3 linked regions of the Homo sapiens genome follow. The protein of the gene in region 3 purifies or fractionates together with the protein of the main gene of each other region. This does not show direct contact. Each region holds a gene or a part of one and is shown on either strand. Other genes may lie near its edges. The genes, in order: CEP162, LAMP1 and CEP128.

The links.
Region 1: the proteins of CEP128 (region 3) and CEP162 purify together in Homo sapiens (affinity purification with western blotting; one large-scale study listed by BioGRID and IntAct). This does not show direct contact.
Region 2: the proteins of CEP128 (region 3) and LAMP1 fractionate together in Homo sapiens (co-fractionation; one large-scale study listed by BioGRID). This does not show direct contact.

Annotation. Positions count from the first base shown.
Region 1 is NC_000006.12:84,147,560-84,151,211, forward strand, and holds part of CEP162 (centrosomal protein of 162 kDa), read right to left. Parts: intron 2,145-3,652; coding exon 2,003-2,144; intron 1-2,002. UniProt on the Homo sapiens protein: Required to promote assembly of the transition zone in primary cilia. Acts by specifically recognizing and binding the axonemal microtubule.
Region 2 is NC_000013.11:113,314,149-113,317,800, reverse strand, and holds part of LAMP1 (lysosome-associated membrane glycoprotein 1 precursor), read right to left. Parts: intron 1-3,652. UniProt on the Homo sapiens protein: Lysosomal membrane glycoprotein which plays an important role in lysosome biogenesis, lysosomal pH regulation, autophagy and cholesterol homeostasis.
Region 3 is NC_000014.9:80,784,705-80,788,356, forward strand, and holds part of CEP128 (centrosomal protein of 128 kDa), read right to left. Parts: intron 842-3,652; coding exon 191-841; exon of another isoform or gene 1-190.

The sequences.
Region 1 (3,652 bases), on a different chromosome or scaffold from region 3:
TACACATTCTTTGCATGTAGCAAACACTCACATGTATCCTATAAATATCTAAATCATTATATATCAATAAAAGGGGGGGAAAATAAATATGAACATTTTTCATGACTAGAAAAAGTCCTTTTAAAATAAAGCTCTATAAAGTCTACACATTTGGAAAAAGGTAGACAATATTATCTTTATACTCTGTGGTTAAGTATGATAGTTTTTATTTAAGAACTATGGCTTAAATATAACATAAGCCTCATAATATCTGTGAAATAAATGTCAGTCTCATATCTTTAGGTAAACTGAAATATATGAACAGATACTTCCATCAAGAAACTAAGAGAAATTGGGAAAAATTTATCTTATCTCTAATGCTGTATTTTTAATGATCAGACTATGCTGATTTCTCTTTAACTCAATTTTACAATATTACATTTATAACGCTGGGAAAATAACATTTATGGCACTATGGCATCATGATACTACTTTTCCTACCTCTTCCAGACTATTCCTTAATACAAAATCACTTGATAGAATGCTTATAGTTGCCCTCTGACACCCTATTCCTATGGAGGATAAGGCCAGAGAGGTTCTCTGTAAGGCTGTATGGATTGTTACTTACGAAAGGCACTTTAAGTATTTTTCATTAACGTAGTCAAATAGTCCTTTTTTTTCTCAGCGATCTGAAGTTAAGTTACAGACTTCATTACATTTTGCCCCTAAATACTTCAAATGCCACTTTGGGAGGTCAAAGTGGGTGGATCACTTGAGGTCAGAAGTTCGAGACCAACCTGGCCAACATGGTGAAACCCCATCTCTACCAAAAATATAAAAATTAGTCAGGCATGGTGGCGTGCACCTGTAATCCCAGCTACTTGGAAGGCTGAGACAGAAGAATCGCTTGAACCTGGGAGGCAGAGGTTGCAGTGAGCTGAGACAGCCTGGGTGACAGAAGGAGACTGTCTCAAAGAAACAAAACCTTCAGATGCTTCAACATACATCTCTTTAGAATAAGGGCATTTCTCACAAAACCATAACATTTTATACCTAAGAAAATTTATAGTAATTTCTTAGTATCTAATAGCCAGTCCATATTCAAACTTCCCGAATTGAGGAATTTATTTTTAATTAAGATGGTATTAAATAATTACACTTGGTGAGATAATTCTTTCTTGATGTTTTTCTCCCTGACCTTCTTTCTTAAAATTGAAGCCTACAGACAAGATGAACACAATAAACATTCATATATTTTTCAACTTGATAACCCAAAAGGTGGCTGATTTGCCACCTTTTTCTTTTTCTTGGATATACCATTTGAAAGTAGATTGTAGATAAAAGTCCTATTTTAATGCTATTTTTATAAGTGACAAACAGTACAGAAGACAGGCCACATGGTAATGCTCATAGATATTCTAAGTAGATATACCTATTTTTCAAAAAGGAAGACACATTTATTTGAGGAAATGCTGATGAGTTGGCAGCATTCCCTATAATAATTCTTAGAAGACTATGCTCCATCAGAGCAAGAGCTGTGTATCTCTCTTTTCATTATTTTATTCCAGTGCCTGATTGTCTATTGACCTGAATCATTATTTGTTAATAAAAGGTCATGGGGCAGGAAGAATGCCTAAGGATAACTGTCAGCTGGGACTTGGGGACTCGGTTCAACATCCAAGTTCAAGTACTAGGGTCCTAATCATGTTAGACATATACCTCACCACCTGTGACAAATTTAGAGACTTATTTGAGAAGTATAGGGACAAACTGTAAAAATATTTATTTATATGGTGTAGTTTTAAAGTAGAAAAATTAAATATATAGTATTATCTTCTTTAAAAAAATTAAATATATAGTATTATCTTCTTTAAAAAAGAAATCAAGCCAATAATAGTTTCCCATTTCTATCACCAAGCTGAAAAAGTTAAAACATTTCCAAATAAAACAATGTTAACTTTAATCTCATTAAAGTCAAAACGAGTTTATTCAAGTCAAAAGATAAAACAGATTTGTCATCTACCTCTTGAGTTGCTATTTTACGATTTAGTTCAGCTACTTTGGAAGAAGAATTTTCTACTGCATTTTGGCAAAGGAGTTTCTCTATTTCTCTCTGATGAGATGCTTTGAGGGATGCAATGTGTGCTGCAGTATCTTCCTTGACCCTACAGAGCAAATGAAAGAAAACCACACATAAAAGTGGCTCTTCAACCTCTAATTCAGAGTTAGCACAAAAACAGTAGAAGAAACCTGGGAATTAAGCAAGGGGAAAATGGGCACCAATATTAACTGCACTGTGTTAGGTGCTTTATACATTACTACTGCCTATGAGTTCTTATGACCAATCCATGAGCTACTATTTACTGAATTTTATAAGGGCAAACTTGAGGAAATAGTGATATATCTCTACTTTACCCCAACCTGAGGCTACACTTTCTGAGGGAATCTAGGGTTCCAAAAGCAAAGCACTTGACATTTGATCTTTTAAGATAAACTCAGATTTCTTGCCCAGATGCTTCTTTGGAAAATCACAGCTGTTCCCTTTAGAATCTCCAATGCCTTGTAGGCAGCATTAACCAATTTTCAACCCATGCATGAGACTCCAGGGCTAGTTGCATATTGTGAGAATGAGACAATCTTTATGGTAATTCTCAGGACATATTATGCTTGTAATATGCAATTAATTAATTGGACTGTAAGTGTGAAAGACTATTCATTTGTCTCTGTGATAAAATTTATTCAGAGGCAGTTCAGTAAATGGTTAAAATTATAAATAAAGATTTGGTATATTTCCTACAGATAAACATTTTCTCTCTTATTGGAAAGACTTTGAAAATAACAGCATTTAACTTAAAGCATGTATTTTAGTAAACTGCTGTTGCTATATATTAATATGGTGCTTCCCAACTATAGACAAATTTATCCATTGCTTATTTCACCATATGAATATTTCTCCATGGAAACAGTGTGAGTAGGGTCCTAGAAAAAGCATAAAAACCTAAATTAAAGCACATATAACTGAATGATAGTAAAAAGTCTAAATATTGGACTAGAAAAGTTTATTCTTCACTTCTCAGGCCCAGACTTATCTAAGAAACAGATTGACAATATTAACAAATTTTAAATGATGTACAGGAAAATTAATTGGAAAACCTGAATTTTAAATTCTTTCCTGGAAAAAATGTGATTCTTCTTAAAGAGCTTCATGCTACTGTCATAATATTCAGGACTTAAGAAACAAGCTTTCCATTTGGTAGCAATATGACTGCCATATGGTAACAACATGACTCACTCACTGCCATGGCTGCCAGTCAATAAGCATTTGTTGGGTGTTTCCCATGCTCATTCTCCTCCTACAGCACATTGCTGTGGGGATGCAAAAGCAGCATAATCTTACACCAGTTCTCAAGGAACTACAAGGCTGTGTATGATTAATCCTTTCTTGGTACATATTAGTAAGTTATGTAGGAGTTGGGGGTAGGAGAAGGCAATTTCCTGGGAAGTTCCACGAAATGTTTTGTGAAGGTAGTACTTATAACAAGAATGAGGAAAAGGCATGAGGAAATGTGACAGATTAGGTAAGTAGAGTAGTATTAGAATAGTGATGAGACTTGAGATGCTAGGCAGAGAAATTTAGTCTTGATATTTAAGGAAGTTGAGAGTCACCGGAGAG
Region 2 (3,652 bases), on a different chromosome or scaffold from region 3:
TAGGGAGGGTCACTGGAGCCTGGGAGGCTGAGGCTGCAGTGAGCAGTTATTGTGCCACTGCACTCCAGCCTGGGAGACCCTGTCTCAAAAAAAAAAAAAAAAAAGCAGCTTCACGGTTCCTTTATAAAATGTTACAGACCAGGGTTAAACAGGCAAAAGTTAAATGTGCAAAACCGGCCAGTCTTGTCCAAATTCTAGTCTAGATGGCCACACGACGCACAGAAAAAGTGTAACCTACGCTGCTTTGACAATTGTTTTTCACCTGTGATCCATGTGGCACATTCATTTCCCACCCTGTTTCTGTAGAGTGGTCACAAGAAGCTGGAAACACAAATAAAACATCATCAGGTCTAACCACCAGTTTAAAAAACTGGAACTTGAGAAATAAGTGTGGATAAAATGCCCTCGTCCTTCTACCTGAATTACAAACGCAAACCCACACTCTCCTTCCCTGAATGCGTACTAAATACCAAAGTCTTTCCTGCTGAGGGCGGAGGACAGTGACGGAGAGCTCATCACGGAACGCACTGGAGAGTGCCCTGCGCTGCCCGGGGGGAGATGGTGGCACAGGAGCCTCTGGGGAGACCTGAGGGTCCACTGTCACACCTCCTCCAGCACCCTCCGGAGAGCAGCACACAGCCGGGCCTTTCCAAAGCTCATGTGCTCTGAAGGCCCCTCCTCCTCTCCCGGCAACAGCAGATACTCACATCAACCTGCAAGCTGCAATTCAGACCCTCAAGGGTGTCTGTGAGGATGAGATTGGTTTGCACCCAGGTTCCCGACTCATAGCTCCCACAGCCTCTCTTACAGTTTTTTGTGACAATGTTGGGTGTGTCAGGCCTCTGACCTTCTCCTGCCCCTTTCACCTGTCCTGAGGGACTCTCATCCTCTCCGCCTTTCTGATGGTAGTTCTTTTTTTTTTTTTTTGAGACAGAGTCTCAGTTGCTCTGCCACCCAGGCTAGAGTGCAGCGGCGCCATCTCAGCTCACTGCAACCTCCACCTCCAATGTTTTACCATCGATTCCTTCCATTTAAGCTAGGAGTCAGACTCTGTTCCTAGGAATGAAAAAAAAATGCTGCAGCTGGGCACGGTGGCTCACGCCTGTAATCCCAGCACTTTGGGAGGCCGAGGCGGGCGGATCACGAGGTCAGGAGATCAAGACCATCCTGGTTAACACGGTGAAACCCCGTCTCTACTAAAAATACAAAAATTAGCCAGGCGTGGTGGCGGGCGCCTACAGTCCCACCTACTTGGGAGGCTGAGGCAGAAGAATGGCGTGAACCCAGGAGGCGGAGCTTGCAGTGAGCAGAGATCACGCCACTGCACTCCAGCCTGGGGTGACAGAGCGGGACTCTGCCTCAAAAAAAAAAAAAAAAAATCATGCCAAATTGGGTGGGAGATGAGACACGGTGACCTTCATTTTCAACTCCTAACAGGAGTCAGGCAGTCCTCTGATTCATTCAACAAGCGTGCACCTATCAGACCCTGAGGATAAAAGACGAAGACACCCCACTCCTCCCGGTGAACTCATAAACCCAAAAGCCTGGCTGAGCCTCACTGTAGATCTGCTAACCCCATATGGGCCTGGGCTGGAAATCCGGTTTGGATGGATATCTGGCTGACTCCAGCCTCAGGCAGAGCTGCACTCAGACCCTCTGGAGTGACAGTCATCTGCCCTACTTTGTTTTTTTGTTTTTGAGATGGAATCTCACTCTGTCAGCTGGGCTGGAGTGCAGTAGCATGATCTCAGCTCACTGCAACCTCCACCTCTCGGGTTCAAGCAATTCTCCTGCCTCAGCCTCCTGAGTAGGGGGGACTACAGGCACCTGCCACCACGCCCGACTAATTTTTATATTTTTAGTAGAGACGGGTTTTCGCCATGTTGGCCAGGCTGGTCTCGAATTCCTGACCTGAGGTGATCCACCCACCTCGAGTTCCCAAAGTGCTGGGATTACAGGACTGAGCCACCGTGCCCAGCCACATGTGCCCTACTTTGAAGATACTCAGGAAGGAAGGTACAAAACCAACAGGAAAGTCCATTCAAAGGTGGCTTGTGCTTCATTTCCTTTTAAAATAAAATCTATGAGGTCCCCGAGCTTTTTTAGATAAGATGATGTATTGAAAGGCAAGATGGGCCGGGCACGGTGGCTCACACCTATAATCCCAGCACTTTGGGAGGTCAGGAGCTCAAGACCAGCCTGGCCAACATGGTGCAACGCCCCCCTCTACTAAAAATATAAAAATTAACCAGACGTGGTGATGTGCACCTGTAATCCCAGCTACTCAGGAGGCTGAGGGAGGAGAATCGCTTGAACCCGGGAGGCAGAGGTTGCAGTGAGCCGAGATGGCACCACCGCACTCCAGCCTGGGCAACAGAGCAAGACTCCCTCTCAAAAAAAAAAAAAAAAAAAAAAAAAGACAAGATACATGAGGCTTTCTGGTGAAGCGCCACCCAGGCAGGAAGCCCAGCCTCCAGGACGCCGCGCCCCAGGCACACCGGCATCTCCACGCTGGTTCCCTCCAGGAGGCCCCGCCCCAGGCACACTGGCATCTCCGCACTGGCTCCCTCCAGGAGGCCACGCCCCAGGCACACGGGCATCTCCACACTGACTCCCTCCGGGAGGCCACGCCCCAGGCACACGGGCATCTCCGCACTGACTCCCTCCAGGAGGCCACGCCCCAGGCACACCGACATCTCCACACTGGTTCCCTCTAGGAGGCCACACCCCAGACACACCGACATCTCCACACTGGTTCCCTCCAGGAGGCCACGCCCCAGGCACACGGGCATCTCCACACTGACTCCCTCAGGAGGCCACGCCCCAGGCACACTGGCATCTCCACACTGGTTCCCTCCAGGAGGCCATGCCCCAGGCACACGGGCATCTCCACACTGACTCCCTCTAGGAGGCCACGCCCCAGGCACACTGGCATCTCCACACTGGCTGCCTCCAGGAGGCCACGCCCCAGGCACATGGGCATCTCCACACTGACTCCCTCTAGGAGGCCACGCCCCAGGCACACCGACATCTCCACACTGGTTCCCTCCAGGAGGCCACGCCCCAGGCACACGGGCATCTCCACACTGACTCCCTCTAGGAGGCCACGCCCCAGGCACACCGACATCTCCACACTGGTTCCCTCCAGGAGGCCACGCCCCAGGCACACGGGCATCTCCACACTGACTCCCTCTAGGAGGCCACGCCCCAGGCACACCGACATCTCCACACTGGTTCCCTCCAGGAGGCCACGCCCCAGGCACACGGGCATCTCCACACTGACTCCCTCTAGGAGGCCACGCCCCAGGCACACTGGCATCTCCACACTGGTTCCCTCCAGGAGGCCACGCCCCAGGCACACGGGCATCTCCACACTGACTCCCTCTAGGAGGCCACGCCCCAGGCACATGGGCATCTCCACGCTGGTTCCCTCCAGGAGGCCCCGCCCCAGGCACACGGGCATCTCCGCACTGGCTCCCTCCAGGAGGCCACGCCCCAGGCACACCGACATCTCCACACTGACTCCCTCCGGGAGGCCACGCCCCAGGCACACCGACATCTCCGCACTGGTTCCCTCCAGGAGGCCACGCCCCAGGCACACGGGCATCTCCACACTGACTCCCTCTAGTAGGCCACGCCCCAGGCACACGGG
Region 3 (3,652 bases):
GCTCCCAGGTGGCTGTTATAACTCATTTCAACCTGGCCGAACAGGCATGAATAAGCCTCTTTATTGTTGGTTTTATCTTCCCTTCAGTGCTTGGGAATACAGAATGATCTCTAAAAGTTTACGCTTTATTAACTTCATGAGCCACCAGAAAAATTCCTTCAGTATCATCAGGATAATTTAGCAGAGGTACCTTCAGAGTCCTGATATGATTCTCAGCCTCACTCTTTTCTTTCTTAAAGTGCTTCATAAGCTCCTGGATATTCTGTTCGTGTTTTGTTTTCACACTCTGCAATGATGATGTGAGATCTTTCAGCTCCCTCTGGTGCACATCTCGTTCCAGCTTTAACTGTGTGATGATTGTAGCTGTTTCTTCATCCCTGGATTTTGCCTGTGCAGTGAGGTCAGAAAGGTCCTTAAGCACTGCTTTCTTGGCTCTCTCTTCCTCAGCCAATTTATTAGCAAGATCTGCTCGGATGGCACTCAGGTCCTTGATGGACTCTTGCATCTCAAGAAGTTTAGCTTTGTCCTGGGCCTGGCTCTTCTTGAGCTCTGCAATTTCTTCCTCCAAGTGAGCTTTCTCAACTTTCATCTGGCTTTGGATCTTACTCTGCTTTTTCAATTCGCTCTCCAGTCTATGGATGGTATCCAGGGAATTCTTAACTTCCAATTCAAGGTCAGCTTGATGAGACTTAATATCACGTAATTTCTCCTCCTTGGAGTGAAGCTCCTCCTCCTGAAGGGCACGCTTTGTTAGGACATCATTCAATTCCTTTCGAAGATTCTCTATTTGTTGTAATGCTGCATACAGCTGGGTTTTCAATTCATCCTTTTCTTTTAAAATCTATCAGGTTAAGAACATGAAGCAAAAGAAAAAAATAAAAGTTACTGTAAAATTCACCATAGACTCTGCCAGTCAGCAAAACAATGTTTAACCCACAAGGAAAAAAAAAATTCATCAAATAATTTTTGTATTTTTCCCATTTTTTAATAAAAATACTTTTAGGCCAGAAAGGTGGGGGGGAATATATAATTGTCCTGAAATAGCAACACACTGAAATATGTATTTCAAATTTTCATCACCAAAACTTATTTCAATCCATGGTCACAAATAATTATTTAAATGTAAGATAAAATTGAGCAAACAAATGGGGAAAGCAAAGACTCTCATTATAAAGAAAACTTACTACAGGTTGAAATAATACACTATTACCTAAAATAATACTGATGTACATTCCAATGATACACTTTTAAAAAGGAGAAACCCCAAAACAGAGATGGAAAATAATATAGGGAAGCATGCAGATACAATACAAGAAAGTTTACGGTACATTCAGCCATTATTTTTAAAATATCAATGGTGACGAAAACTCACCAATATGCAACTGGGAGCCTGGAAGCCCACAAAGAAATGAGATTAAGTCAGGAAAGGTTGGGAAAGGGCTCAAGAGAAAAGTCAAGGGCCTAGAAGTCCATCATTCTATGCCAGCCTCTCTAAGATTTACATGGAAGGACAGAGGCCAAGGGTTAACTCTTCTGGCCTCTAATTCTCACCACCTAATCATTGCAAATAAAATAATGGGCAGCCAAGGGAGCCAAGATTGTTTTCTATACAACACTGGCACCAAAGATAATCTCCGTGAAACAGGAGGGAAAAAAAGGAACCAATTAAGACTCATTTCAGAATTACAAATAATGAGTTAAAATGCAAATATTTGCAAGACATTTCTACACTTCACATTTTATACTTCAGTGTAAAACAATTTATGACAAAAATTTAATGAGTCAATCACTCCAAAAAAAAGTTTCCCCAATCCTGCTCAGTTTTAACTGAAAGAAAGAAAGAGCACAAAGATAACATGAGAACTAACAAAAGGAGATGAATAAGCAGTTGAGCTCTGACCAGAAAGAAGTGAATTTGATTTTCAGTTCAATCACGGGCAATTCTATGGCCTCGGGGAAATCATTTCTCTTACTAGAGAAAATAATAATAGCTATTTCATAAGACTGTGATGAAGATTAGTGAGAAAGGGGAAACAAAAAGTTGGAGTAGAATTTAAGTTCGAGGAGGTATTAGGGTCTCAGGGAGGTGTTTATGCAAGGTAGTGATCAAAACTGTAAAAAGAGCCAGGCCCAGTGGCACACCCTATAATCCCAGCTATTTGGAAGGCTCAGGCGGGAAGATAGCTTTGGCTCAGGAGTTCAAGACCAGCCTGGGCAACATAGCAAGACCCCGTCTCTACTGTGAAAAGACGGGATAACTGAGGAGAAGGAACTCTGGAACACAGATGAAGGAGTTCACTTCCGAAAGAATGTAAGGTAGGAGAAATATAGATGAGCCTAAGGGTAGATGTATTATTTTTCTATTGCTTCATAACAATTTCCAACAGACTTAGTAGCTTAAAATACACATTTTTTATCTCACTGCTTCCAATAGGTTGAAAGGCCAAGCAAGGTATTCAGCTTAAGGTCTCCTAAGACTAAAATCAATGTATCAGCTGGCCAGGGCGCTTGTCTGGAGGTTCTGAGGAGAATCCATGTCCAAGCTCATTCAGGTTTCTGATACAACTTGTTTCCATACAGTTGTAGGACTTTGGGTCCCCATTTCCTTGCTAGCTTTTGGTCAGCGATTATTCTGAACTTCTAGAAGCCAACCTTGTTCCTTGGCTCATGGACTCTGCCATCTTCAAAGCTTGAACAGCTTGATGAATCCTTCCGAAGCTCCAACTCTCTCTGACGTCCCCTTCTCTCAATAGCCAGAAAAAAAAAAACCTTCTATTGAGGGCTCATGTGATAAGATTAGGCCCATCCAGATAATGTGATCACAGGAGTAATGTCTTATCATATTCATTGGTTCCAGAAATTAGTGTGACTTCTTTGGGGAGGGTCATTCTACTTACCAAACTGGAGAACACAAGAACTGATAGAATCAAATTTGGGCTGTAAAGATAGCATGGGAGGGACTGAGCGAGGGTAGGGACCTTCAATATAGTGATATATGTTTGAAGCAGATAACTTAGCCCCCTTGGCATGAGTTGAGAGACTTATAGGCAGTGCTGAGGATTAAAATCATATTTTCATAATGAAGTCATACCATGTAAAGTGTCTTTAATTATGAAATATTATATCTTCCTGAAGTTGGATTAAAAAGCAAAGATATTTCTTTTTCACACATAACAGTAAGTCCAGAGACAGGATGGTTCAAGAAGAATCCCTCAAAGCTCAGGCTCTGCTACTCTATAACTCTCCATCTTTTGCTGTCTTTGCAGTGTTCCAAGCTTCACATCAATTCCTGACAAGGGTGACAGCCAGAGGGCAGACAGTCACAGACCATGTGAGTCAAGTTTGGAATTTCTTTGGCAATACAGATACTAAAAACTAAGCTCTGTCGATCTGATTCTGGTTAATTGCTTGCCTAGTAGCCACAGCTTAAGATTCTGTCTAGGCATTTTCTCTGAGTCTGAAAATGTCAGTGTCTTTACTGTCATCTCAATACCCTGGACATACCCAGGGCCCTCAAATGAATAGCCTTTATCTTGAGGCAAATCAAAACAGTGGAATTGGGTTCTCTTTGTCTGGCCAGGATCTTTTTTTTTTTTTTTTTTTTTTCTGTTTCCTGACTCCCTCTTGTGCTTGCACTAATTTCAGTTTGGAT